2 separate regions of the Homo sapiens genome follow, and region 1 is linked to region 2. Evidence: fine-mapped QTL for protein levels in blood plasma. Region 2 holds a variant in brackets. A gene starts in the other region. All regions are shown on their forward strands.

Region 1 (14,106 bases), not on the chromosome of region 2:
GCTGCTTTGGACCTTATCTGGGAATTTCCTTGGGCTTACAGCCTTTACCCTATCCTTGAAATGGTTCTGGTTTCATAGCAACTTCTAGGTGGTGTGGGCGAAGTTTGGGACTGGTTTAGGGCGGGGACAAGACCAAGAACACAAGTTTCCTTGTACTACGGGAGAGAGGGAGGGGAGGAAATTGGAGACCCCAGCACCCCCTTGCTCACTCTCTTGCTCACAGTCCACGATGGCCCGGTCCCTGGTGTGCCTTGGTGTCATCATCTTGCTGTCTGCCTTCTCCGGACCTGGTGTCAGGGGTGGTCCTATGCCCAAGCTGGCTGACCGGAAGCTGTGTGCGGACCAGGAGTGCAGCCGTAAGAATGGGGAGGGGAGAATTGGGGGCTTGGGCGTTAGCCTGTGTGGAGGGTGCTGCATTCCCTTCTATTCCTTCCCTAGACCCTATCTCCATGGCTGTGGCCCTTCAGGACTACATGGCCCCCGACTGCCGATTCCTGACCATTCACCGGGGCCAAGTGGTGTATGTCTTCTCCAAGCTGAAGGGCCGTGGGCGGCTCTTCTGGGGAGGCAGCGTGAGTCTTGGGAGAGTGAAAGAGGGAAGGGTACAGAGCTGGGGTAGACTCATTATCCCCATGAAGGGAAGATTTGAGGGGGGTGAACTGAAATAGACATTGTGGGGGGATATTGTTACTTACTTTATTTTATTTGCTTATTATTTTTTAATTTTTTCCGAGACAGAGTCTTGCTCTGTCACCCAGGCTGGAGTGCAATGGCACGATCTCGGCTCACTGTAACCTCCACCTCTTGGGTTTAAGCGATTCTCCTGCCTCAGCCTCCCAAGTACCTGGGATTACAGGCATGCACCACCACACCTGGCTAATTTTTGTATTTTTAGTAGAGACAGGGTTTTACCATATTGGCCAGGCTGGTCTTGAACTCCTGACCTCATGATCTGCCCGCCTTGGCCTCCCGGAGTGCTGGGATTACAGGTGTGAGCCACTGCCCCCCAGCCTATTTTCACTTTATTTACCAATTTTAGGACCTGATATGGTCCCACGTTCTGTTCTAGACACCAAGATACAACAACAAATGATCCTTTTTATTCTAATGGAGGGAAATGAACAAAAAGCAAGGCATAAAAAATAGCAGCAGCCGGGCACAGTAGCTCACACCTGTAATCCCAAGTAAGGCCAAGTTGGGAGGATAGCTTGAGCCCAGGAGTTCGAGACCAGCCTGGGCAACATAGCAAGACCCCCATCTCTATAAAAAAAAATTTAAAATTAACTGGGCTTCATGGCATGTGTCTGTGGTCCCGGCTACTCGGGAGGCTGAGGTGGGAGGATTGCTTGATCCCAGAAGTTGAGGCTGCAGTGAGCCGTGATCATGCTACTGCACCTCAACCTGGGCGACACAATGAGACCCTGTTTCCAAAATAATAATAATAATAAAAGCAAATATGCGCTGCTGTGAGAATTAACAGAGACTTACTTGGGTGTTCAGAAAGGGCCTCTGAACAGGTGGCATTTAAGCTGAGATTCATATGACAAGGATGGAGCAGTTATGTGGAGATCAGGGAGAAGGGAGAATGCAAAGGCCTTCAGCAGGCACAAGCTTGCCATCTTCCCAGACCCTAGCTTTTAACTCCTCTTCCCCAGGTTCAGGGAGATTACTATGGAGATCTGGCTGCTCGCCTGGGCTATTTCCCCAGTAGCATTGTCCGAGAGGACCAGACCCTGAAACCTGGCAAAGTCGATGTGAAGACAGACGTGAGTGTCATGGGGGCTGGCAAGAAATGTGGGGGGAGGACCCTTAGGTTGTGGGGATGGGCAAAAATGCTCCCACACTTGGCTCCCTGGCAGCCTAGGTATGTGCGCTGGGAGAAATTCTTTCCCTGCCTCAATTTTCTCACCAGTAAAATGGGTCCAGTTGGGAGGTGCAAAGATTAGAGGGCTCTAGGCTAATTTGCATAGCACTTGTGTGGCCAGACCTGGGCCCTGCAGCTGCAGCCTTTGCTAAAACCACTAGATCCTTTGTGGTGTGACCGCTGGTTTTCTTTCCACTGTTTCCCCTTTCTCTTTTTCAGAAATGGGATTTCTACTGCCAGTGAGCTCAGCCTACCGCTGGCCCTGCCGTTTCCCCTCCTTGGCTTTATGCAAATACAATCAGCCCAGTGCAAACGGCTCGTCTCCGTGGTCTTTGGGGTGGGGTAGGGTAGGGTGGGGACTGTACAAATGAAATGTTTCTCTAGGTTGCTGAATCTAACCAATTAACCCGCTGCCTGTGGTAACGTCAGTGGTTGCTAGGCAGAGTTTCACTGATGAAAGCCCTGTGCAGTAGGAGCGCTCCTAAGCTTAGGTTTCGGACACAAGCAAAGGAAAACCTAAGCAGCCCAACTAGGGGATTGTAGTGTCCTCTCTAGACCAGTGGGAGGGAGCCAATCGGACTACGCGGAGGATATAAATCGCACAGTAAAGGTTTTCTTGGAAGATTATCTGGAAAGGGAGGTGGGAAGTAACCTGCGCCTATCTGCCCAGTTTTCCTCCTTTTCGCCTTTGAGAACAGTAATCGCTCCCGCCAGCTCAAGATCAGCTCCTCTTCCAGCCTCTTTCTGTCAATCCTGCCCGTGCCCCCTTCTTTGCATTTGTATCCCCTCCCCCAAGTCCGCTCCGATCCAATCCGGAGACTCGACTCTGCCCCCCGTACTCCAGACTAAATCCGTTCCTCGGCTCAGCTAAGCAGCTCTGCACGTCCCTTCCCACTTGCTCAGCCAATCGCTGGGCTCGGCCCCGCCCCTTTGGGCTTGGTCCTTCTCACGCCACCAATCCGCGCCTCTTGTCCCGCCCCCTGCCCGCGAGTCCGCCAATCCCGCCCTTCGGAAAGCGTCGCCTGGTATCCAGCTGCCGGAGCGGGTCGCGCCGGAGGGGGGCGGAGGCGGAAGTGGCGGTGCCGGGCCCGGGGAGTAGGAAGGAGCCGGGGCTGTAGCCGGAGTGGAGCGGCTGCCAGCCGAGGAGCAGGCGCGGCCGCGGCGCCATATTGCGGCCCTCAGCGGCCGCGACCGAGTCATGGCTGAGACCTACGGTGAGGGTGGTGGACGAAGCTGGGGTCCTGGGTCTGGGCCCAGGGAGGATGCGGCCTGTGGGAATGGGCGGGGCTTTGTAGATCAGGGGGCGGGGTCTGGTGTGATGGAGGCAGGACCTAAGTGGATGCTGGGAGGGGTTTAGTGGGTCTGAGGCTGAGCTTAATCGATTTAGGTGGAGCCTGAGGGTCTGGTGCGTGGGTTAAATAGATCTGGGGCGGGATTTGAGGGAGCTGGTCCTGAGGGGTTCAGGGAGGCCCTGAGGGAAGAGGTGGGCCTTAATGGATCTGGGCGGAGCCTGAGTGAAGGGGCGGGGCTGACTGCATGAATGGCAGGAGTCGGGCTTATGGGCTAGAGGGAACACTGAATGGAAGCTCGGGACCCTGGGGCTGATCTGGCTGGAGAGAGCTCTGGAATGGGTTTGGGGATGGGCTGTCCTTGAGTTAGGGGCAGGACTTAGTGGCAAAGGGTGGGACTTATGCATGAGAATGGAGCCGGGTTCTGGGCAGAGGGAGGGAAGGAGAGGTCGGGAAGTGGAAAATCAGTAGGGATGCACCATAGGAGGTGGTGATTGGAGGCAGGGGAAGTGCAGGTTTAGGAGTCAGAGGGAGCCGCATTCACTCAACAAATATAGAAGAGAAGGGAGAAGAGTGCAAAGACCCTGAGGTGAGAACCAGCTTGTCATTTTCAGGGAATAGACTGAAGGTCAGGAGCTATAGTGGAGTGAATGAGTCAGAGGGTGGTAGGAGGTGAAGAGGAACAAGGGCTATATCGTAGTCCTTGTTTAAATAGCTTTCAAGAGACTTTAGCGACAAAATAGCTAAGATCTGGGACTCTGGAGCCCTTGGCCTAGGTTTGAATCTCACTTCTGCCCAGCTGTGTCACTTTGGGCAAGTCAGTTAACCTTTCTGGCCTGTTACCTCATCCGGAAAATGGGAATAATTTTTAGTCTACCTCCCTCATAGAGTTTTCCTGAGGATGATGTGAGCTGTTGATGTGAGTAAAGACCTTTAGAACTGTTCCTGGCCCACAACAACACACAATTGACCCATGTAACAAACCTGCACATGTGGGCTGGGCGCGGTGGCTCATGCCTGTAATCCCAGCACTTTGGGAGGCTGAGGCAGGCGGATCACCTGAGGTCGGGAGTTTGAGACCAGCCTGACCAACATGGAGAAACCCCGTCTCTACTAAAAATACAGAATTAGCTGAGTGTGGTGGCGCATGCCTGTAATCCCAGCTACTCGGGAGGCTGAGGCAGGAGAATTGCTTGAACCTGGGAGGTGGAGGTTGCGGTGAGCCGAGATCGCGCCATTGCACTCCAGCCTGGGCAACGAAAAGTGAAACTCTGTCTCAAAAAAACAAAAACAACGACAAAAAAACCCCTGCACATGTACTCCCTGAATCTAAAATAAAAGTTGAAAAAAAATATATAGAATGTGCCTGGCACATGGCAAGTACTACATAAGAGTTATCTGTTACTGTTACCTATTGGTTTGTTTCTGCCTATGTCTGTTTCTCTCCCTCTAACTGTGATGGTTAGAGAGAGAGATTGGATTGGAATCCATCTTTTTTCCCTGTATCTTTCTCTCCCTGTGGGTATCCCTGATTTTGGCTCCATCTGGTCAGACTTCCTCTTCAAATTCCTGGTGATTGGCAGTGCAGGAACTGGCAAATCATGTCTCCTTCATCAGTTCATTGAGAATAAGTGTGAGTTTCCCGCAGTGGTCCTGGGAACCCTGAGCTGTGTTTATGCGCATGGTGTGGGCTGGTGGGCAGCCGGTGGGGAGGGCAGGGCTGGCCATAGGTACAAGTCCAGTGCTGGCTTTTTGGTCCTTGCTTTGTCGTATGTCCTTTACTAGGTTCTCCTTGACCTCAAGTCACTCCAGCAAGGAGAATGGGTTTGTAGAGACTGAGAGGGCCTTGGAGGATGGGGGATCCTCTGAGCTGTCTCCTCTCTCCCTGTACTGCCCCTTCTGTTCCTCCTACTCCCAGTCAAACAGGACTCCAACCACACAATCGGCGTGGAGTTTGGATCCCGGGTGGTCAACGTGGGTGGGAAGACTGTGAAGCTACAGATTTGGGACACGGCTGGCCAGGAGCGGTTTCGGTAGGTGGGCTGGGCTCCCAAGGGTGATGGGGAGAGAGAGTGAGAAGGAAAGAGAGAGATGTGTGTGTAGAGTCACTTGGAGACACTGAGAGGGCAGACAAGGCAGACAGAGAGAGATGAGACACCGTAGTTAGCAGGTATATATATCCAAGGAGAGAGGGAGTACTGGAGAGATAAAGAGATGGTGGAAGAAAAAGAGGTAGGGGCCAGGCGCAATGGCTCATGCCGGTAATCCCCGTGCTTTGGGAGGCCATGGTGGGAAGATTGCCTGAGCCCAGGAGTTTGAGACCAGCCTGGGCAACATAGTGAGACCCCATCTCAAAGAAAGAAAAAGAGATAGAGAAAAGTGGCTTGGGGGTGGGGAAAGGGATGGAGACTGAGAGACACCGAAACAGAAAGAGAAGGGGAAACTTGAGAGACTCACACTCAGAAAGGAAAAGAGCAAGAGAGACAGAGACTAAGAGAGTTGAAGAGAATGATAAGGGAGGTAAGGAGGCCTGGCACGGTGGCTTACACCTATAATCCCAGCACTGTGGGAGGCTGAGGCAGGTGGATCACTTGAAGTCAGGAGTTCAAGACCAGCCTGCCAATATGGTGAAACCGTGTCTCTACTAAAAAAAAAAAAAAAAAAAAAAAATCAAAAAATGTAGCCAGGCTGTGGTGGTGGATGCTAGCTACTTGGGAGGCTGAGGCAGGAGAATTGCTTGAACCTGGGAGGCAGAAGTTGTAGTGAGTCAAGATCGCACCACTGCACCCCAGCCGGGGTGACAGAGCGAGACTCTGTCTCTGAATAAATAAATAAATAAATAAATGAATAAATAAATAAATAAATAAATAAATAAATAAGGGAGGTGAGGAGACACAGAGAAACAGAGGTCAGAGGCAGAGAGGGAGACAGGGTGAGTCAGACAGGTGTAGTTGGACGTTGAATGAATGAATGCACGAATTTACGGGAAGGCAAGGGTGAGCATGAGAGCCACAGAGATGGAACAGAAAGAGAGACAGTGAGAAATAGGGAACTGAAGACACACACGCCAAGGCAGGAGAACCGCTTGAGTCCAGGAGTTTGAGACCAGCCTGGGCAACATTGTGAAATCCCATCTTTCCAAAAGAGAGATGGAGAAATGGACGTGTTGTGGGAGAGAGAGAGAGAGAAATGCGTAGGGCTCAACACACTGTAGGTCTTCAGGAAATGCCTGCAGAGCAGAAAAGTTGATAGACACATAGAAACCTTAGGAGAGGCCGGGCGTGGTGGCTCATGCCTGTAATTCCAGCATTTTGGGAGGCCGAGGCGGGCGGATCACGAGGTCAGGAGATCGAGACCATCCTGGCTAACATGGTGAAACCCCGTCTCTACTAAAAATACAAAAAATTAGCTGGGTGTGGTGGCAGACGCTGGAAGTCCCAGCTACTTGGGAGGCTGAGGCAGGAGAATGGCATGAACCCAGAAGGCGGAGCTTGCAGTGAGCCCAGATCGCGCCACTGCACTCCAGCCTGGGCGACAGAGCTAGGCTCCGTTTCAAAAAAAAAAAAAAAAAAACCTTAGGAGAGTCGGAGAAACAGAGAGCAGGGAGAGAAATAGAGGGAATTCAGTCCACGGAAAAGTGTGATCTATGGCAGCATCTAGTAGCTGCTGAGTTAATTCTTGCGTATGGATTAACTGCCTGAGGTGCACAGAGCCCAAAGGCAGAGAGAGGGGCTGAAGGATAGACAGGTGTGTAGCATGGGCTAGGTTTACGGTGAGTGCTTAGTAAATGCTGTGGAATGATTGCATGAGTTCCAGAAGGACCCAGACTGGTGAGACAGAGAATGCAGAATTGGCTACACTGGGAAGGAGACTCCACCTGACACAGCAGGAGAAGGATAAGCAGATGTTGTATAGTGCTTGGGCAGGGCCAGGCAAAGGGGAGATTTGCTCAGAAAATGTTGAATGAATGAATGCACAAATGCATGGGAAGGCAAAGGTAAGCATGAGAGAGCCACAGAGATGAAACAAACAAACAAAAAAGACAGAAATAGGGAATTAAATAGGGCCAGGCACGGTGGCTCACGCCTGTAATCCCAGCACTTTGGGAGGCCTAGGCGGGCAGATCACTTGAGGTCAGGAGTTCAATACCACACTGGCCAACATGGCGAAACCCCATCTCTACTAAAAATACAAAAATTAGCCGGGCGTGGTGGTGCATGCCTGTAATCCCAGCTACTTGGGAGGCTGAGGCAGGAGAATCACTTGCATCCGGGGGGCAAAGGTTGCAGTGAGCCAAGATCACGCCACTGCACTTCAGCCTGGGCGACAGAGCAAAACTCCATCTCAATCAGTCAATCAATCAATCAATCAATCAATAAAAGACATGTAGGGCCGGGCACAGTGGCTCACGCCTGTAATCCCAACACTTTGGGAGGCCAAGGTGGGCGGATCACTTGAGCTCAGGGGTTCGAGATCAGACTGGCCAACATGGCCAACCCCATCTCTACTAAAAATACAAAAATTAGCCTGATGTGGTGGCGTGCATCTGTAATCCTGGCTACTCGAGAGGCTGAGGTGGGAGAATCACTTGAACCCGGGAGGTGGAGGTTGCAGTGGTTGCAGTGAGCCGAGATCATGCCACTGCACCCCAGCCTGGGAGACAAGAGTGAGATTCCTACTCAAAAAAAAAAAAAAAAAAAAAAAAAGAAAAAGGAAAAAGACACATAGGTTAAGGCAGGAGAATCACTTGAGCCCAGGAGTTGGAGACCAGCCTCGGCAACCTAGCAAAGCCCCATCTTTACAAAAAATATTAAGAAATTAGCCAGGTGTGGTGGTGCACACTTGTAGTCCCAGACACTACATAGGCTGAGGTGGGAGGATCTCTCCGTTGGGATACTGAGCCTAGGAGGTCGAGGATGCAGTGAGCCAAGATCGTACCACTGCACTCCAGCCTGGGCTACAGAGCAAGACCATCAAAAAAATAAAAAATAAGACACACATGAAAGAGACACAGAGAGAAAAACAGACGAATGGAAAGATAGGGACACAGGGAGAGACAAAAATGGAGATTCATAAATAGAGACAGCTGGCCAGCTAAGTGAGATAGAAGCTGAGAGAGGCGAAGAGAGAGGGACTTCAAGGATGCAAGAAGAGAGAGGAATTGCATGGTGACCCGACCAAGGCCAGGTTTTGGGGGATGGGCCAGCAGTGAAGGGGGGGGCCTCCGAACCACCAGTCTGTCTCTGTAGAGGGGGGCATTCTCGGGGCAGACCCCAGCCTTGGGGGTGACTGGGTCCCCCTGGCCCCACAGGTCAGTGACGCGGAGTTATTACCGAGGGGCGGCTGGAGCCCTGCTGGTGTACGACATCACCAGGTGGGTGCCCGGGGTGGGTGGGGTAGGGCATGGGTGGTTCCTCTCCTGCACTGCCTCCCTCCCTTCTCCCTTCTCCACAGCCGGGAGACATACAACTCACTGGCTGCCTGGCTGACGGATGCCCGCACCCTGGCCAGCCCCAACATCGTGGTCATCCTCTGTGGCAACAAGAAGGACCTGGACCCTGAGCGGGAGGTCACTTTCCTGGAGGCCTCCCGCTTTGCCCAGGAGAATGGTGAGGGCTGTGTCGTGGACCAGGTGGTGGTGGGGGTGGACAGTCCACAGGGACCATGGGTTTACTGGCTCTCAGTGGCTGTACCCAGCAGGGGAACGTGGAGGTTCAGAAGTCTGGGTTCAAATTTGAGTGTTGGCTGGGTGTAGTGGCTCACACCTGTAATCCCAGCAGTTTGGGAGGCCAAGGTGGGAGGACTGCTTGAGCCCAGGAGTTTGAGACCAGCCTGGACAACACAGTGAGATCCTATCTCTATAAAAAATTTAAAAAATTAGCTGGGTGTGGTGGCTCATGGCTGTAGTCCCAGCTACAGTGGAGGCTGAGGCAGGAGGATCACCTGAGCCTGAGAGTTTAAGACTGCAGTGAGCTGTGATCACGCCATTGTACTCCAGTCTGGGAGACAGAGCAAGACACTGTCTCCAAAAACAACAACAACAACAAAACAACAACAAAACTAAGTGTTGCCATCAGTGAGCTATGTGATTACACTGGTTCTCAGTTTCTTCATCTGGAAAGTGGGATCACAGTGTTTCTGCCCCACAGTGTGCTGTGATGATTAAGGGAGATTGTGGAAAGTCCTTAGCACCCGCCACAGAGTGGGTGCTAGATTAATGTTGGCCGCTAAGGTTTCGCCTACCGTCAGGAGGCCGCACAGGGTATTGGTTTTTTAAATTAATTATTTTATTTATTTTTTCCTCCTACCGCACCTTCCTGGGTATTGGTTTAATGTAGAGATTGCAACCCTAGATGGCCCTAGGTGAAAGGCACTTTTTTTTTTTTTTTTCTGAGACGGAGTCTTGTTCTGTTGCCCAGGCTGGAGTATAGTGGCGCAATCTCGGCTCACTGCAACTTCTGCCTCAGCCTCCCGAGTAGCTGGGACTACAGGTGTGCGCCACAACGCCTGGCTAATTTTTATATTTTTAGTAGAGACGGGGTTTCACCATATTGGCCAGGCTGATCTCGAACTCCTGACCTTGTGATCCGACTGCCTCGGCCTCCCAAAGTACTGGGATTACAGGCGTGAGACACTGCGCCCGGTGAAAGGCACATTTTTGAATACAGGAGATGGGATGGGGTAGATCCTTGAGTAACAGGTACTGGTGTTAAGGGGAGTGCAGCATACTGACAACCCACACCAAAAGGTTTGCAAGGGCCAACCACAATGGCTCACACCTGTAATCCCAGCATTTTGGGAGGCCAAGGTAGGAGCATCACTTGAGATCAGGAGTTTTAGACCAGCCTGTGTAACAGAGTGAGACCCTGCCTCTACAAAAAAAAAAAAAAAAAAAAAGCCTGGGTGTGGTGGTATGTGCCTGTGGTCTGGGGTACTCAGGAGGTTGAGGCAGGAGGATCACTTGTGCCCAGAAGTTCGAGGCTGCAGTGATCTGCAATCACACCACTGCACTCCAGCCTGGGGGACAGAGAGAGACTTTGTCTCAAAGAAAAAAACAAAAAAGGTTTGCAAGTATAAACTCATTTGAAAACATTGTGTTGGCCAAACCACCCACATCTGGTGGCTTGAGATCTGCCTGTGTTCCCCTGTTTTGCAACCTCCAGGTTTAAAGGAGGTTTTGCCATCAGAGAGGTGTGGGTGTGAATTCAGCTCTGATTTTCTGACTGTGGGGCCTTGTCATGCTGCTGATGGGTAGACTCTGGTTGGCCTGTTCCTGTCCTAGATGGTGCTAGAGACACAGTGTTGGAGACAGCCCTAGGCCCAACCTTCATGGAGCTCACAGTTCAGTGGGTGAGGGTGGAAGGACAGACCCACTTCCAGACAGTGACACCTCAGGAAGGTCAGGGCTTGATGGTGAAGCACCGGGAGACAGGGGTCAGAGCCAGCAGGGGAGAGCCCCAGAGGGTCAGGGCCAGTACTGGGGGGGCAGGCAGAGGGATCGGGGTGGGATGGAGAACACAGGCAGAGGGGTCAGGGCTGGGATAGGGCAGGCAGAGGCAGAGGGGTCAGTTGGGATGAGGGGACACAGGCAGAGGAGTTACATGGGATGGGGGGCAAGGGCAGAGGGGTTGGGGTGGGATGGGGGGCCCAGGTAGAGGGGTCAAGGCCAAGTTTGGGAGGCACAGGCAGAGCGGTTGCATGGGATGGGGGAGCATGGGCAGAGGGCTCAGGGGTGGAATGGGGCAGGCCTAGGCAGAAGGGTCAGGGGTGGAATGGGGCAGGTCCAGGCAGAAGGGTCAGGAAAGGAATGGGGCAGGCCCAGGCAGAAGGGTCAGGGGTGGGATGGGGACCCAGGCAGAGGGTTGGGGCCAGGATGAGGAAGCACAAGCAGTGGGGTCAGGGCCAGGATAGGGGGCCACAAGAAGCTGTGGGAGCCCTAAGTCGGTACCTGACTCAGCCCAGGAAGTCAGGGAGGACTTCTTGGAGGAGGAGCTGTGTGAGCTGAGCTCTGAAGGAAGAGCTGGGTGGGCATATCGGGAAGCGGACATTAGTGGCAGGGAAATGGCATGCGCAGAGGCCTGAGGTGAGGGTAAGGGGGGATGGAACATTGGAGGAACAGGATGAGAGTCAGCAGGTGAGAGCTCAGTGGAGGGTGGGGACTAACTGGGGCCCTGACCTCAGAGTGTGTGCCCCTGCAGAGCTGATGTTCCTGGAGACCAGCGCTCTCACAGGCGAGAACGTGGAGGAGGCGTTCCTCAAGTGTGCCCGCACTATCCTCAACAAGATTGACTCAGGTGAGGCCCCGACCGGCCCGAGTGGGAGCGAAGGGCAGGCCCGGGGGTCTCCAGGCAACCAATGCTGACCTCTCCCCTTCCCCACAGGCGAGCTAGACCCGGAGAGGATGGGCTCTGGCATTCAGTACGGGGATGCGTCCCTCCGCCAGCTTCGGCAGCCTCGGAGTGCCCAGGCCGTGGCCCCTCAGCCGTGTGGCTGCTGAGCTCTGTGGAGCCAGGTGGGACACTGGGGGCTTTAGGGAGGCAGGGCGGCCTCTTGGGCATGGGGGAGATGGTGTGGAGATAGACACTGAACATGTGATGACAAGAGAAACAGAGTGAGAGAAAGATGCAAAAACACACAAGCTAAAGGAGGCATCTGGCTGGGCGCAGTGGCTCACGCCTGTAATCTTAGCACTTTGGGAGTCCGAGGCGGGCGGAGGCAGTTCATTGGGTGGGGGTGGGGAGACAGACCCACTTCCAGACAGTGACAGCTCAGAAAGGTCAGGGCCAGGCCTGGCTCGGTGGCTTATGCCTGTAATCCCTGTACTTTGGAAGGCCGAGGCGGGCGGATGACCTGAGGTCAGGAGTTCGAGACCAGCCTGGCCAACATGGTGAAGCCCCCTCTCTACTAAACATACAAAAATTAGCTGGGCGTGGTGGCAGGTGCCTGTAATCCCAGCTACTCGGGAAGTTGAGGCAGGAGAATCACTTGAACCTGGGAGGTGGAGGTTGCAGTGAGCTGAGATCACACCATTGCACTCCAGCCTGGGTGACAAGAGCAAGACTTTGTCTCAAAAAAAAAAAAGAAAGAAAGGTCAGGACCAGATGGGGAGGCACTGGGGGAGAGGGGTCAGAGCCAGCAGGGGAGAGGCCCAGGGGGGTCAGGGCCAGGGTCAGGGCACAGGCAGAGGGATCAGGGTGGGATAGGGCAGGCAGAGGCAGAGGGGTCAGGTGGGATGAGGGGACACAGGCAGAGGGGTTGCATTTGATGGGGGGTATACATAAGGTCAGGAGTTCTAGACCAGCCTGGCCAACGTGGTGAAACCCCTCCTCTACTAAAAATACAAAAATTAGCCAGGCATGGTGGTACATGCCTATAGTCCCAGCTACTTGGGAGACTGAGGCAGGAGAATCACTTGAACCCAGGAAGCTGAGGGTGCAGTGAGCCAAGATTCAGCCACTGCATTCCAGCCTGGGCGACAGAGCAAGACTCTGTCTCAAAAAAAAAAAAAAAAAAAAAAAAAAGAGACATCTGCCAGGCCACAGGGAATCCACCTGCAGCCCCAGGCCAGCTTCCTGCCCTAGACCTTGACCCTCCCATTCATAGTTCTCCAGCGATTTATTGAGCGCCTGCTGTGTGCCAGGCCCTGCTCAAGGCACTGGGGATATGGCAGGGAGTACAACAGACTCCCATCCTCATGGTGCTGACATTCTCTTTGGGGGAGACAGGTGATAAACAAGAGATGTAAGTCGACTGGGCGCAGTGGCTCACACCTGTAATCCCAGCACTTTGGCAGGGTGAGATGGGAAGATCACTTTGAGACCAGGCTGGGCAACAAAGCAACCTTATCTCCACAAAAAGTTTTTTAAAATTAGCGAGGCGTGGTGGTGTGCACCTGGAGTCCCAGCTACTTGGGAGGCTGAGGTGGGAGGATGGCTTGAGTCCAGGTGTTCGAGGCTGCAGTGAGCTGTGACCATGCGCCACTGCATTCCAGCCTGGGTGACAGAGCGAGACTCTTAAAAAAAAAAAAAAAAAAAAAAGTAAAGTATGTAGTAGTGAGGGAGGTAAGAACTATGGGGAAAAATAAAACAGGCACAGATGAGTGGATAGGGTGGAGGAGTGTACTTTTTTTTTTTTCTTTGAGATGGGGTATTGCTCTGTTACCCAGGATGGAGTGCTGTGGCGTGATCTCGGCTCACTGAAACCTCCGCCTCCTGGGTTCAAGTGATTCTCCTGCCTCAGCCTCCCGAGTAGCTGAGATTACAGGCGACTACCACCATGCCTGGCTAATTTTTTTTAATTTTTATAGAGACAGGGTTTCTTTTTTTTTTTTTTTTTTTTTTTGAGATGGAGTCTTGCTCTGTTGCCCAGGCTAGAGTGCAGTGGCACGATCTTGGTTCACTGCAACTTCTGCCTCCTGAGTTCAAGTTGCCTCAGCCTCCTGAGTAGCTGGAACTACAGGCGCCCGCCACCACGCCTGGCTAATTTTTATGTATTTAGTAGAGATGGGGTTTTACCATATTGGCCAGGCTGGTCTCGATCTCTTGACCTTGTGATCTGCCCGCCTCGGCCTCTCAAAGTGCCGGGATTACAGTGTGAGCCACCGCACCTGGCCGACACAGGGTTTCATCATGTTGGCCAGGCTGGTATCAAACTCCTGACCTCAAGTGATCCACCCACTCTTGGCCTACTAAAATGTTGAGATTACAGGCGTGAGCCACTGCGCCCGGCCAAGAATGTACTTTTTTTTTTTTCTGAGATGGAGTTTCACTCTTGTTGCCCAGGCTGGAGTGCAATGGCGCGATCTCAGCTCACCGCAACCTCTGCCTCCTAGGTTCAAGCAATTCTCCTGCCTCAGTCTCCTGAGTAGCTGGGATTACAGGCATGTGCCACCACACCCAGCTAATTTTGTATTTTTAGTAGAGACGGGGTTTCTCCGTGTTGGTCAGGCTGGTC
Region 2 (15,294 bases):
GGATAAGGTTGTAGCATAGCTTGTTTATTAGCATTGTTAAAAATAATGATCAAGTTAATTAAAATTGAATTATAGTGGAACCATCTAAACAGACTCATGACAGCCATTATAATGAGTTCTATTAAAGGCAGCAATAATGATTAAACTATTTTGAAACAAACTCAATAATTTTTATAAGAAATCAATAGTGCACATTTATCTCATGTCCCCATTAGTAAAACTAGTAGCAGAATATTTAGACTGTGGACTCTAAAAATTGCTGTGACCCTGACTGCTCTGCAGAGGATTCTGTAATGTATTAGTGTTGTGTATGCTATCAGAGAAGAGTTGTTGCAGCCAACTATAACCCACATCTGTCCTCCCTCCCTGCAGTACTCTTCCACTTTCAAAGCACAATGGCAACACTGCAGGAGAGGTGAGGCCCTAAAGCAGAGGTTTCACAGTCTTTTCCCACCTCTTGGGAACTCTTTTAATGTCAAAATATTTAAAAGTCCTTTCACATGTAAGTAGTTGTATTTTTAGTATCCTATTGATGAATAAAAGATACATGACACAAAAACTGTGAATTCAGTATTAATTTACAATTTATTACTTACAACTTCTACATACATACAAAGGGCAATTTTAGTGAGTTTTTGTTCAGACCTACAATGTTTTGGTTCTCAGACAAACACAAAACTTCTGTGTTGTTCTTCCCTTTCCCTGTCACCCCAGGATAGTGGCATTGGTATAGGGAATTTGGAGGGGAAAAGCATAGGTCGCTTTTCACAAGGGATGTCTCCTTGGGAATGTCTACTTGGGCAAGTAGTTGAGAGACAAGAGAGTGGATTATTATGGTGTAGATGTCAACACATCTGACATCTACCTGCTGTTTTCCATGAGAATGTTTTCTTATAACCTAATGCAAACTTTTATTTTATATTTGTATTTGCAATTGAAGTGCAATAAAATTAAACAAAGAATCAAGCTTGATTTTAATTTTTTCCCCTGAATTCTGAGTATTGAGGTTTTATGTAGAGTAATTAAAAGGCATTTCATATAGTAAATAAATCTTTATTGAGCTCAGAAATGACCAATGATATTAGTAAACATCATTCAATGTGGATCACATATTGATCTTTTAATTGTAGCCTTTTAAATAAATAATTCATTTTTTATGTTAAAGTCTCATGACTGCTCAAAACCTACACAAAGTTCTGATAAACACCCATAAGTTGACTTGCTAAAGCTCATTAGCAGTATAAGAAGAAGTTATTACATAAATCTGTCATAGCTTCCTAGGTTGTTACAAAGCTATGTGTTTATAGACTATTAGTTTACATTTGAGAACAGTGTGCTCACCTTGGAAAAGGCAATTTTCAGTGGGGAATCCCTGTAGTTATTAAATAAAAAATGCAACCATAGGCCACTAATCTACCTCGATGAACTGCAAATGCAAACTTTTACTATTAATGGGTTTATCTGTGTAGATTATACATAATGATAGTTCCTAGGAAATGTAACCAGTTCTTATAAAATCAACATGAGTGTAACACAGTTTAATTAACAATATACTCATATTAACAATATTTAATTTTTGGCCTCTTGGACTTTATGTTTAGAGATTATTTTAAATAACCTGTGAATATGATAACCTTTTAAAAGAAACTGAACATAGACAAGGTTAAATTCAGATAAGCATGTTAGTTCTACAGTTGGCATTTTTCACTATAAAGAACAATTTTACTATCATTGTATTTTTCTTTACATGTAAAAATTAACATAAATCCTTATTCTCAAAAATTTTAAATTAATAGATTCTTCATGTGCAAAATTTATTATTTAAGTAACCATTTGATTCTAAATATTTTTTAAAAATCCAATGGGGCACTCTTTATGAGGGGTTAATAAATCAATTTATACATTATAAGGCACTTAATCTTAAATATTTGATTTATACAATTAATTTTATTAAGACCCAATGAAATTGAAGTGTTTACAACAATCACCCCCAAAAGCAAAGGAGAAGTAGAAAAAATAAACAACTTCTGAATCACTTTTAAGCCTACAAATTATATTTCTATATATCTTGTCACCTTTTGGCTGAAATAAGTGTGGCAATATAAGCAATTAAAGCTCAATGTTAAAATAAAAGATTTTTGTTGTTGTGTTAGGCTTTCTTAGTGGAATGCTCAATCCAGAAATTATTTTAATGTTTGTAAACTGATTTTCGGAAGATTTGATACTATCATTAGATTTCCGTCTTTACTTATAAAAGAGTGTTTTTTTCTTAATTGCACAGTTCAAAACCAGAGATTCTGTGCAATGGATGCCAAGAAAAACCTACATGGGAAATTTTCATATTAACTATGCCATTGTCTTCTGGTTTTTATAGCAATGTGTTGATAATTGAAACAACAAATGAGCAAAAATGTAAAATATGTCAAAATATCTTCACATACTGTTTAAAGTCTTAGCTGGAGTCTGTCTAAAATAATGATATAACATTACCGTATAAGAAGTAAGTCTTTTGTTTGCTGTGAAAATGATGCTAGTAACTTTCAGAGGCTAGATGTTAGCTAAGAATAAATGTTCATATTGCAACATCGTTTCTGCATTACCTTAGAGGAAAATGGAAAATTCACTTTAAATCTTTTTTGTTCACCCATTCTTAATGATTGAATGTAAATTTCTTGAAAACACAGACAAATCTGAATTGACTTTGCATCTAGCGCTGGGCCTCACATTTAGGAGGTATTACACACTTTTGTGCCTGTGTAAGTGAGGCATCTCTGTATATGACAACCAGCTACTTTCCTGAATTTGCTAATTTCTCCCAATATGCTTCTGCTTTATGAAATTACCATTATTGGGCTTAACTACTTCCCCTATGTGCTTCTAATTCTTTGTGATAGTACTTGAGTATTGACAGAAGTTTAAAAAACCTTAAACAGGAATATGGGAGAACTTTACCTTAATAATGAATGTGTATGAACTGGTTAAAGTCTAGGCTTTAGACTTTAAGCTCCAAGTCTCCAACTAGCAGGAATGATGGAAATCCCCATCCAATTAAGCTTTCTCTCACAGAGTACTGAGTAGCTTATGTCTTCTCCCTGGAAGTCATCACAGATCTCAGTGCTGCTATCTGCTCCCTTACCTCATAGCCCTCACCTGCAGCAGGATTGAACCTGAAGGAACAGCTGGGATTGATCTTGCTGCTGATTGCTTCTACAGATGCTGGGCACTGCCATGCCCCAACCCAGTTCAGAGAAGCTTTCTCTATAACACTATTAAAATTATTAGGTTACCCAAAAGGTGGTCTCATTCTCTGTCCTTTGATTTTTCAATCCCTTTTCTTTCTTTTCTTTTTTTTTAAGAAACAGGGTCTCACTCTGTCACCCAGGCTGGAGTGCAGTGGTACAATCATAGCTCACTGCAGCCTCAAACTCTTGCATTCCAGTGATCCTCCCACCTCAGCCTCCCAAGTAGTGGGGACTACAGCAACACTACACCGAGCCACAGTTCCCTTTCTTGAATTTGGAATTATTTTCCCCCAGTTTGAGTCAGAGAACATTTGAATGGAATCATCTAATGTCCTATCCAAAAGGACTATTTTTCTTTAAAATGCATCAGTGTCTTAGGCTGAAGTTCAAGAGCCTCCATTTCCAACTCTTGGGACTACTATTCCTCATGATCACCATTTAGAAGCCTCTTTTACTCACCTGTCTATTCTTGAGTAAAGTACACAAGGTTGAAGAAAGTCTTCCATTGAAGACATCAAGACAAACTGCTCAGCATTTAGAAATGCTACCATTTGCCCTCCCCAGCCTGAGCCCCAGTTGAGTCTCATCTTACAATCCGGCCTAAGCTCGCCATTCTTGCAAAGTAAGCCTTCACAAAGCTTGCTTGCTCTCATTTTCAAACACAAACTCGGGAAAAGAAAAGAAAAGAAAAGGAGAGGACAATAATTTTGTAGTCCTATTTTATCTGCATAATAGCCCACATCTTGAACTTTCCTTTAACATTTATCTTCTTGGAATATCCTCCTAGTTTATTTTGAAAATCTTTCAAAAATTCCATTATTTTTATTGATTTTCCAGGAAGTTTATGTTTGGTCATTTTTCAAATATTAAGGAACTAGTTATCCCCAACACTACTTCTTACATAATCAGCCTCAGCCTATCTTTACTATGTCTTAAAAAACCAAGCTTATAATTTCAAAATTTTTATTTTAGTTTCCCTTCAAGATCTTAGTTTTAAGATTTTGAATACAACACTCAGTATTGAGGGACTAATTTTCAAGTTCATGAATTATCCGAACCACTTACTATTCCACTTGCTGATACTCCCCTTGGCTTTTTGGCCAATTCACTGTCCATTAGCACCTCTCACAGATGGTGAGCACGAAGAAAAAAACAGTTAATTTTGCTACTGGTTGGAATAAGAAGAAGAACAGTTAATTTTGCTATTGGTTAGTAACTTGAATAAAGGATCTGATAGTGTAGGACATTAAAATTAATACTTTAAGTGGGATTTAAAATTGGTCTGTAGGAGAACAACAATCTTCCTCCTCACAAAATAATGTAATAATAATTATTTTCAAACACTTGGCCAATATAAGTGATATATGAAAGGGAAATTGTGCTGTCTCTATTTGCATAGGGAGATGCTGTTGCTGATACATCAGTGAAAAGAATCCAGACTTTGTACTTGAATAGCCTAAATTCAAATCTTTTCTCCATCATTTATTAGCTTATATGATTGTGAATAAGATATATACAATGTTTCTCTTTGTTCTCTCTTCTGCAAAGTGAAAATAAGGATAAATTTCTCATAGCTGCTGCAATAAAGACCACATATGGGAAAGGCACATTAATAACCATAAGGAATATTCTTCTTATTTTATTATTATCATTATTAATATGTTTGGATGAGTTATATTGATTCATTTACACTCTCTTATCTAGTTTTTACGGAAGATAATTGAGTAAGTTGATGGTCCTGTCTGCACTCTATAACAATAAAACATTTTAATCTTCTTGACAATCTAGTTGGTTTTAGATGACTTAAAACAATGACCTCAGCTCCAATTTTCTAGTCAGCAATCCAAATATTGATCAAATCTAACGTTTGATCAACAATGGGATCAGTTATGCCTGGGATCTGAGTTCTTTAACAGTTTTAACAGCTTAGATTTGTATCTTGACTGTGTATTCTTTTATCAGTGGGGTAAGAATGTACAATGAGGTAAATGTTCTTCTCTTTAATTTTAAATTATCTGAGATGAGATAAAGCAGGCAATGGAGAGAGGGAAAGAATGGAACTGATGCCAAAAAAATCCATTATTTAAAGAGCTTGGGATATGATGAAAATAGGACGAAATGAGGATTTCCCAGACAGATGATAAGGTTTGGAATATACATGACAATGCAATTAGAAACATGAATTATGAATGTGAAGAACCTATTGGTAACTTGCTTTCTATTATCCTGAGTATAAGGGAATAGGAAGCTATTTTAAAAGTCACACATGTAACTTAGGAATACTATATAATGATTCTTGGGAGAAGAATGGTGTTATTTCAATGGCAGTATTTAATTTTCTAAAAAACTGAAAAGAAAAGATTCCAAAATGTGAACATGCTTGAAATCTACAAAATGGCATGTGTAGTCAGAGTAAGCCCACTTTGTTGCTGCTCAGGTGCAATTAGATTTCTAAATATTTTAAATGTCATTCAGTATTACACTAAGAGTTGAGTCCATAAGTGAACAATTGCATGTCTGGAGAAATATTTCACTTTATGAGTATGCATGTGTGATATGAATGTTCATGGTGTGTGTGTGTGCGTGCACACACATATGCCTGTACTTATAAGGGAGTAGAGAAAGGATAGAGAATGTGGTGAGCTAAAATGTGAATGACTGCATATTAAAGGTTGTCTTAGAGAAATTGTGAGTCAGCAAAGCACAAGGAAATTCTAGACTAGTAAGGGATTTAGAAATGACCACAGCAGGTATAAAGCAGAAAGTTTCTCTGGGAGCTGATTGGAGAAAAATCTGCATATCATGAAAGCGAGAGATTCTTTTTTTTTTTTTTTTTTTGAGATGGAGTCTCGCTCTGTCACCTAGACTGGAGTGCAGAGGTGCGATCTCTCCGCCTCCCAGGTTCACGCCATTCTGTTGCCTCAGCCTCCCAAGTAGCTGGGACTACAGGCGCCCGCCACCACGCCCGGCTAATTTTTTGTATTTTTAGTAGACAGGGGGTTTCACCGTGTTTGCCAGGACGGTCTCAATCTCCTGACCTCGTGATCCGCCCGTCTCGGCCTCCCAAAGTGCTGGGATTACAGGCATGAGCCACCGCGCCCGGCCGAGATTAATTCTTTAACAGAATCCAGCAAATTCCTGAAGTTAGGTTTAAACAGCATAAAAAGAAGCATTCTGAGACCGGGAGCAGTGACTTATGCCTGTAAGCCCAGCACTTTGGCAGACCGAGACAGGAGGACGCTTGAGCCCAGAAGTTTGAGACCTGGGTAACTTGTGGAGACTCCATCTCTACAAAATAAATTAAAAATTATGTACGCTTTGTGGTGCGTGCCTGTGGTCCCACCTACTCAGGAAGCTGAGGTGGGAGGATCCCTTGAGCCTGGGAGGTTGAGGCTGCATTGAATTGAGATGGGGCCATTGCACTCCAGCCCGTGGACAGAGTGAGACACTGTCTCAAAAAGGAACATCTTGATTGGAAACTAAGGTTTGAATTTGGGCCCAGGCCAAAAGGATCTTGCTTTGGTTAGTAACATGATCCAAATCATTATACAAAATAGGCACATACACAGAGGTAAAAAAAACAATTGGACTTATTCAACATATTCAAAATGTTATTACTTATCTCTAAGTGGGGAGATCATGGGCAGTTTTAAATCTCTTCTTTTAAGCTTCTCTGTAGCTTCCAAGTTTCATGAGTTGAACTAATTAATTTTGTAATTAGACAAAAACCAATAGACAGTACTTAGAAAGTAAATTTAATCATTGATATTTTTGGAACCATCTACTTTGGGGGTCTGGTAGATGAAAGAGTGTGACCCAAAAATATGTCAATTCAAAGAAAGTGTGGTGACGGTTGATACCACACTCCTCTCAGGATCTGAATGGGCACATAATGTGTTTCATTTATAAAGCTGTTGACTGTTAGAAGGCATGTGTTGGAATTATAGAGGCCATGGATGACCCATGGCCACAGCTTATTTTTCTATCATGCTCTTTCTCTCCTTTATTATCTTATTTACAGGTATTTAGCTGGATTGATCCTTCCCCACCATTTTAACAATAATAATACATCTTTCCCTGAATCATGTGATCCAAAGTGTTGGAGAGGGTGGGCACAAAGCTCCCTTAATCTCTTTCCACCTTACTTAGTAATTCAGACAAAGCTGGACTTTGTAGAAAAGAAACTTCTACCAGGAAATAAAAAGAAAAAACAAGAACAGATGTTTAGAAACAGACATGCTTTAAAAGGCATAGCCTTCTATCTGAATCCTGAAATCAGATGTTGGCAAATCCCAGTACCCACACAAATTCTGCATTGTTGGTGAGAGCTTGTTGAAAATGTTAGGATTTTGGCAATTCTTGACTATTCAGTTTTGTTACTGTGTTTTTTG[C/T]CCTCTTAGGAATTTATGTTTTCTTAAAAGAAAATGTAATTAAAAAGCTTCAGTATCTGATATTAATGGACAATTGGGTAATATGACAATGAATCACTCTATGCTAAGGTTTTCAAAGAATCTGACATGGAATCTGGTGAAAAACTTTGCAATTTTTAAGTTAGTGAAGTACATTAAAATACATTTTAATCCATACTCATTTAATAGTAACATTTGACCCATATACTTTAAATATTAGACAAAGTAATTGTAGAAACACTGGCTGAGGTTTCCCTAACTAAATTCCATTGAAAGAATGGCCTGATAGAATCAGTGTCCAGGGGGCTTTGTCTATGGAGGGGGTTTCTTTCCTTGACTCTGGCAATACCAACACTCAAACAACTTGTCCAGATGTAGTATAGCCATTATCTTCCTTCTCTCCTCCTCTGCTTTCATTTCTAGATCTCTGGAATCCCCCGGTCCTAAAGTATTATACATCCTTCCTGTAAACACTGAAGTCCTTCAAACTCTGCCTGCCATTATACTGACCTTTCATAGACTTTTTTCCTGAAGGTGTCTAGGACCTGAAGATCCTGGAAAGTTAGCCCTTATCCTTGAATCATTTCTGGGTTTTGTAGAGTTTGTTTGAAGCACACCTTTAACTCAGAATTGAGGTTGACTGATAAAACTCAGCTTTAAGTAACCCTCTGGGCAAGTTCTGAGCAGAGATCCAGTGAGCTGAATGTCAGGCACCACCTCCCTGGAGTCTGTATCAGTCACATCAGCATTCTCCTCTGATTAGAATCAGGTTTCAAGGGTCTTGTTCAAGAGTTTATTCTCTCCTTTAAAGATGCCACAATACGTATAAGGAATGTCTCTTGGTCCCAACTAATCTACAATAAGAGAGGAGCAGTATAGTCAGAGGCCAGAAAACAACGCAGTTTCTAGTTCAGGTTATATTCTCTTGGAACAGACTCCTTGCTGAGGGGCTTCTAGAAAAGGAATGCAATGGTCCACCTCTTTCTAAGTAGGAGGGGAAGAAGGGGCTTGTATTGGTGGATATAACTCCTTTCCTATCCTCTCAACTGTCTAATCCCCAAGTGACAACCATCCTCTCCTTCTGTTGTACTTTCTAGCTTAAGATAATCACATATATCACACACACCAATGAAGTGCTATCAGTTGGAAAGGGTGGAGACAGAACCAGAAGATGGGAAGGAAAAGGCCTTGAACACAGCCTGTGTGTGTATTAGAGGTGTGTCTTAATCTTTTGGACTAGGGACTACCCAGTAACCACCCTGAGTTCAGTTTTGTATCACTTTGAGACTAAACTGCTGTGGTAATATTTGTTAGACCCTGAAATAAATTACTGACATGACAGTTTCCTTGTTTTTTTAAATGTCCCCATCTTGAATCATAATTATTGGTACTTGTCTTCCTGAGGCTTTTGAGTCCATCAAATGTGTGCAAATTTCATTTGGGTTAATGTTATTTTCCAGCTTTCATCTGAAACTGCCCATCAGCATTCACCTGCTAGGGTGTTGCTAGAACATGTAAGGCCATGTGGGTTGATGAAGGTAATTTATTCCCACCAATTGGAAAATAAGCTACATTACTTCTAGCTTAGGAATTCCATACATATTTTTAAAATGAAATATGAAACGCAATTTTTTCCCCACACAAATTAATTTGATTCATTAAAGGGCTGAGAATTCTCCCACCAGAAAATCAAGTTTATAGTAGGACCTCAGCATGGGATGGGGTAGATTCGTTTCTCCAAGAACTTGGAGAAAGAGGACAAAAAGGAAAAACATATCAGTGTCCACTCAGCCTTTTATTTTTGGTGTTTCTAAAACTAAACATTTGCTCTTCTTCCATATCCCTCTCTCACTGGAGATCCCTAGTGAGGACACCCCCATTCTGTGTCTTAAGGATATCTGGTGATGATTTCTAAAAGAGAGTTTCTTTTATTAGTAGTAGCAGTAGTAATTGTTCGAGACGGGGGTGTCACTCCGTCACCTAGGCTGGAGTGCGCTGGCACAATTATAGCTCACTGCAGCCTTGACCTCCTGGGCTCAAGGGATTTTCCCGCTTCAGCCTCCTGAGTAGCTGGGACTACAGACATACGCCGCCACGCCCAACTTTTTTTTTATTTTTTTAATTTTTTTTTTATAGAGACAGGAGTCTCATTATGTTGCCAATTTTGGTCTGAAACCCCTGGGCTCAAGCGATCCTCCTGCCTCAGCCTTCCAAAGTGCTAGGATTGCATGACTGATCCACTGTAAGTGGGTTTCTAAAACAGAGATCTTTACAAAGCTTTTTGAAATAATTTGACTCAGCATGCCAGGTAACCAGAACTGTAAGATCACAATTTGAAACAGACATTGTGGTGATGGTGGGAAGAGACGGCCTGCATCAAAACAATGTTTACTAGTTTGTCCTTTTGTCCCATATTGTGTAACTCCGAGAGTTCTTACACCACCGTAAGAAAGTAATTATACTTTGAATTTCTCTAAGGCTCTAGTTAGAGAGCATCCATCTAAATGTGCATTTCCAGGAATATTGCTTTAATGGCCCAGGTAATTCTAATTGGAGAAATAAAATGTTAGCGAGACAGAGTTGGTAGAAGCAAGTAAAACCGGTGTATGGGGTTTGGCCAATGAAATGCAGAGCTCCTTGAGGGCAGGAGACATGTATTCACCAACCTTCTCGCGCCCACAGCCCCAGATCTGTGGCCAACAAGTATCTATGATGCACTTGAAAGGAACGAGCGATGCCAGATGCGGAGGAACCAGGCAGGGCGCATTCTGTCAGTGGCGCCAGGCGGTGTAGCTCCAGCTCTCAGATAACCCAGGCTTTGGGAGGGCGGGGCTCCTGCCGGCCTCCCCTGTAGTGCGGCTCGAGTCCTGTGAAGCTACCAGTTGCCAAATGAAATCTGAAACCTCGAGCTGTGTCTGAGGGTTGGCCCCACTCAGTTGTTCCAGCCTCTTGTACTGTATATTTACACATTCACACACAATCACCCTTTCTAACTTCTGGGACTCTTTGCGCAACTGCTAGGATTTCTCAAGTGCATGTGGCAACACAGCCCAGCTCCGGGTGGAAACCAGCAGGGCTCTGGAGGGGCTCGGAGACCAGGGGAGCTGTCAAGGCTGCGGCGGGGACCAGAGAGGAGCCTGGCGGGGGTGGCTGGGTGGCTGGGGGAATCCCCCCAACTTCCCATCGCAGGCGCAGCTCTCTCGGCCGCCTATTTCCTCCGAAACCCGCGCTGCGGAGCAGCCCAGTGCATAGAGTTCAACACTTCCCCTTGTTGTGGAAAGTAAAGGAGCCTCACTACCACCTTTTTTTCTTTGCGTTTTCTTACTGCTGGTCCTGGGAGCCTTTTCCTTCGGAGCAGCAGCCCTGTCCGGCATCTGTCTTGAGCTCCCAGCAAGGTAGGTGATGCGGTCGCGAGGAAGTGCGCGGAGCTACCGCGGGAAGGACGGACGCGGCTGCCTGCGCCAGGGGAGGGGGCTGCGGGGGGCGGGGAGGGGGCTGCGGGGGGCGGGGAGGGGGCTGCGGGGGGCGGGGAGGGGGCTGCGGGGGGCGGGGAGGGGGCTGCGGGGGGCGGGGAGGGATCGCAGGAATCCCGTGCTGATGTAGCCTGTCTGTGTTTGTGTGTGTGTGTGCGCGCGCGCGCATGTTTGTGCCGGGAGACAGCAAGCTGGTAGTATGTCTTTCTGGCTTTAAAAATAGATGGAATTAATAAAAACCCTTTGTACAATTCAATTTCCTCTCTTGGTATCCATCCTCCCCTTCCCCTTGTTTGTTTCCTCTAGTATCTTATAGGAGTTCCCTATGTAACAGGCGCACAAAGATAGGTTTTAATAATAAGCATATATATTTGCAAAAATATATATTTTATATGTATAAAATATGTTTTAAAATATTTATAAATATATTACATATTAGAAATATATATTATAAAATATATACATATATTTGTAAACACAAAACGTTAGGGAATCTTTGGTGAATTTGAAGCCACTCAAAAGATTTTGTCCAAATGTTTTTAAAAATAACATTTAATGATAAACATGTAATATGGTCTCGTTTTTAGAAAATACTTAAGACTACATTTATTTTATACGTACCCAAATAGAAGGGAGACAATGTTACTCTGAATTCCTTAGATAGATTTTCAGCATCAACCAGTAATAGGGAGCCCAGACTTCTTTGTAGACTATATCTCGTTTAATTCATTTGAATTAAACAAGTAATTTCTCCAAGTAATTTCTGTTTCCAGCACATTTTATGTTACTCTTTTTTTAACCTTCCACGGCATCATTGTTTCATCTCTTTCTAAAAAGGAAATAAATAAATCGTGCTGAGTATTTGGAATATAAAAGTTGTTAAGGCTTTGCTTATACATAAATACATAAATAAAACAATATGTGTTGCTATGTCTACTAAGTAAGACAAATTCATTGGAATCCAGGGATATTTGCAGTAGAGTTTAAGAGCTTTACTCAGTTACTGAGTAGAAGATGTACAGACGGATTAAATACAAACAATCTGTCCCCAGTTCCAATTAGAACTCAAAACCAATCCTTCAGGGCAAAAATGGATGACGCTATTGAACTGGGCATTGTAAAATAAAACACACAGAATGTATGTATTAGAAAAAGCCAGAAAACAGCCATAAAGTCACATCAGACTTGTGAAGATCTCACTCCCCCTTTTAAATTTCTTAATTCTTCCTCTTTTCTGGGCATATTTCAACTTGTAAGAGAGCTCAGTAATAAAAGTTACCATTTTATCTTCCCTGACTGCCTGGCCTTCAGGTAGCAAGTCCAGAAATCTGTTCTCTCTAGAGCCATTACTTAGTGGTCAGAGACTTCACCTTTGACATCTTGGAGGACGGAAATATTGACAAAACTCTGAAATAAATAACATCCTACCATTCACAGGCAGTATATTCTTGGTGGAAGACCTTTAAGTGGGGATAAGAGATAAACTGAGTTTTTCAGATCTGGAATTTAGTTTGAGGTATTTGGAAGGAATATAAAAGAGGTATGGTACTAGGAAAAATAATCGGTAATTCTTTCTGCATGTGGAGGGGCTGTTGAAACTCAGACTGTCCTTGGCTTTCAACTATATTACTTGGTTTTATTACTTCATCTCAGGGGTTTGGATTTGAGATGAGGTGGTTTCTCTGTAATATTCTTCTGTGCCTTACATACCCTGAATCTGAACTATTTTGAAAATATAAGCCTGATAAGAAGTGGGAAAGAATTAAGTTATCTAGAAAAAAATCCACTGCAGAACAAATGGCAATGCATTCTTCCAGACTAGAACATAGATTTAAGTGTAAAAGTGTTTTTGGGTGAAATCCCCAGGGAAATCCTTTCAGCTTTTGCTGGGGATAGTAATGGCCAAAGCTCTGAGAGCTTTCATGGATCATGGTTTTATTTACTGTGTGATCTTGGACTCTGCAGGGTGAAGGGTAAGGAGTGGGCAGGAAGGGTGAGGAATGTGCAACAGGTGGTGATGAGTAGTCCGAGTATGATTACTTTGCTGTCTTAGCCAAAGCCCTGTTGGTGTTTACCAACAGTTCCCTTAATATTTTCACTGTGACCTACTGGCCCATTGACGAGTGTTTTCTTTCCGGCTCGATTAAAGTCTGGGTTGGTTTCTCAGGGCTGAAAGCAAGCGGTGCTACTGTACAGTTCAGGCCGTGCGTTTGTTTCCTGTTCTTAGTGTGTGTGGTGCTGTAGCACCGTCTTAGTCGCTTGTAGTTATTTTCCTGTGAATTTTCTGACCAGCAGTGAAGGGTTCTTTTCTCATGAATTGAGCTATGTCATGCTGATTCCTTCTTTCTGCCATGTTTCAGTTTCTGGTACAAGTGGGTGCTTTGGAAAAACAAGATGGGGAAGGTAGGTAGAGTCTCAGTCTGGAGCCCAGTAACAAGGGACAGCCACCCAATTGGTTACATGTGGGTGTGGAGGAGGTTGGTGATAACAAGAGCCTGAGACATCCATTCTTCACTGATCACATTTTATAGAGGAAAAAGCAGAAGATATTTAAAATGGAACGATGCCTGTTTGCTCTTAAAGCCATGGCTAAAGGACTAAGATCTCTCCCAGATACAGAAAGATATTTAAAAATACAGTTGTTAAATGGTCAGCTTAGCCATGAAGTTAATGTTCTTCATGTGAAGAGTGGAAGCCTCACATCGAGTCTCGCAATGGTAACCCATCTGTCTTTGCTATACAAACTCAAACTTTACAAGGTTCTGATGGCTTCAGCAGCTAAGTACAAGCACATTTGGAAGTGGAGGGATTATTGTGATGAAGAATCAAAGAATATTCAGTTTTCAGTGGTTATTGTGTACATTTGTGCAAAAAAGCAGCATCTACACTCCACTGTGGCATTGCTACAGTTAATCTTTACAAAGTCAGATCTAACTGTGTAAGTCTCTTTATCTAAAACCTTTGTTGGATTCCAATGACTTACAATATTTAAACTCTTTAGTATAGTTTCTAAAAGCTCTTCCAAGCCCTTTCTTTTTAGCTCCCCCTTTGTGTACAAGGTCTCCTCACTGTTCAGGCTTCTGATCTCTGGTTCATGGATTCATTCTCCTGGAATGCCTTCTGTCTGAAAGTCCCTCTTGATTCTTGGTGGCTCACTTCCAGTGGAACTTCCTTCGGGAAAACTTACCCAATTCCGTGAAGAATTAATCATTTCATCTTGTCTGCTTCTATAGCATTTTGAACATACTTTGAATAATTGTTGCAATAATTTTTATGTATTTCCCCTGTCCTCTCTCACAACTACTGTGAGTTCCTCACTGGGTAGATTGGTGGTGGGGGAGCCACCTGAATTCAAGCCCCCAGCCCAGTGTTGGAAACATAGTACACATCTGTTAATGTTTCCCCAATAAGTGGGCAAGTGAAGTCGTCAATAAATGAAATACTGGTGCACTCCAACTTATGAAGATAGTTATATCTCAGAAGTCCATTTAAAAAATGTCTATTTGGTCTTAGAGTTCATTTTCCAAATATAACAATGCTACAAAACATAATCCACTTTCCATACCACCCCACACATGCCTATTTAATCTCTATAATAGATGAAATATTGTGCTTTTGCATATCTAAAGCAAAAGCAAAACAAACAAAAACTACTGTGAAATCATCTTTTTCTTTTGGACATCACAAAATACACTTGAGTTTAAAGAAAATAGAAACAATTATAATAGATATACATTTTCCACAACTGTGTTTTATATTGTACTATAAAATCTGTAATCTGTGAAATCCAAGTGGGAGGTCCTGGATTTGGCTGTGAAGACTAATAATGAAGTTAAATTTGGAGATCCTGCTTATTGAATGGGCAATAGTCTTAATTAATCAAATAAAATAGAAACACTAATTTTGGCTATTTAATAATTATCTGGAGTGCTGGTGCTTGAGGGAAATTAATTAAAGGAGAATGTGGAGCTGGATGGAGAAGAGGAAATTTAGAGGGGCAGCTTCTTTCATGTTATAGTTTCTTTATTGTATTGATTTTCCTTTCATCTCATTTGAGCACTGAGGCAAATCCAAAGTTTCTTCCTGAAAAAAATTCTTTGTCTGCAGTTATTTTTGCTAATATGTAGAAAGGGGCTTACACACTGTTTAGACTAAAATACATATGGGCTT

Direction of the effects. Positions count from the first base shown, and alleles are read on the strand shown. Strength reflects both the effect of a copy and how common the allele is.
For the plasma level of the protein whose gene starts at base 208 in region 1, C is the high allele of the variant in region 2 and T is the other (weak association).

What was found. A credible set is the group of variants that fine-mapping cannot tell apart. PIP is the chance, under the fine-mapping model, that this variant and not a neighbour inherited with it causes the effect. The UK Biobank Pharma Proteomics Project read protein levels with antibody pairs (Olink). The fine-mapping took linkage between variants from a reference panel, not from the people measured, so its PIPs are less certain.
Region 1: MIA starts here. The variant in region 2 is the best candidate, but not a certain one, in a credible set for the plasma level of the MIA protein (UK Biobank, PIP 0.89).

What each region holds. Positions count from the first base shown.
Region 1 is chr19:40,775,314-40,789,419 of GRCh38, forward strand. MIA (MIA SH3 domain containing) reads left to right here and starts at 208. Exons shown (of 4, transcript NM_006533.4): 1 at 208-356; 2 at 439-572; 3 at 1,656-1,766; 4 at 2,084-2,177. The coding sequence starts at 230. The coding sequence ends at 2,107. It overlaps RAB4B (RAB4B, member RAS oncogene family), which reads left to right and starts at 2,934. Exons shown (of 8, transcript NM_016154.5): 1 at 2,934-3,078; 2 at 4,706-4,786; 3 at 5,072-5,186; 4 at 8,465-8,527; 5 at 8,608-8,762; 6 at 11,352-11,447; 7 at 11,535-11,665. The coding sequence starts at 3,063. The coding sequence ends at 11,650. It overlaps MIA-RAB4B (MIA-RAB4B readthrough (NMD candidate)), which reads left to right and starts at 224. Exons shown (of 10, transcript NR_037775.1): 1 at 224-356; 2 at 439-572; 3 at 1,656-1,766; 4 at 4,706-4,786; 5 at 5,072-5,186; 6 at 8,465-8,527; 7 at 8,608-8,762; 8 at 11,352-11,447; 9 at 11,535-11,665. It overlaps RAB4B-EGLN2 (RAB4B-EGLN2 readthrough (NMD candidate)), which reads left to right and starts at 2,906. Exons shown (of 12, transcript NR_037791.1): 1 at 2,906-3,078; 2 at 4,706-4,786; 3 at 5,072-5,186; 4 at 8,465-8,527; 5 at 8,608-8,762; 6 at 11,352-11,447; 7 at 11,535-11,665. RefSeq lists silencers at 2,068-2,197, 2,748-2,987 and enhancers at 3,048-3,117, 4,005-4,536.
Region 2 is chr4:85,464,514-85,479,807 of GRCh38, forward strand. It overlaps ARHGAP24 (Rho GTPase activating protein 24), which reads left to right and starts at 10,637. Exons shown (of 10, transcript NM_001025616.3): 1 at 10,637-11,046. The variant C/T (reference allele first, on the strand shown) is at 7,634.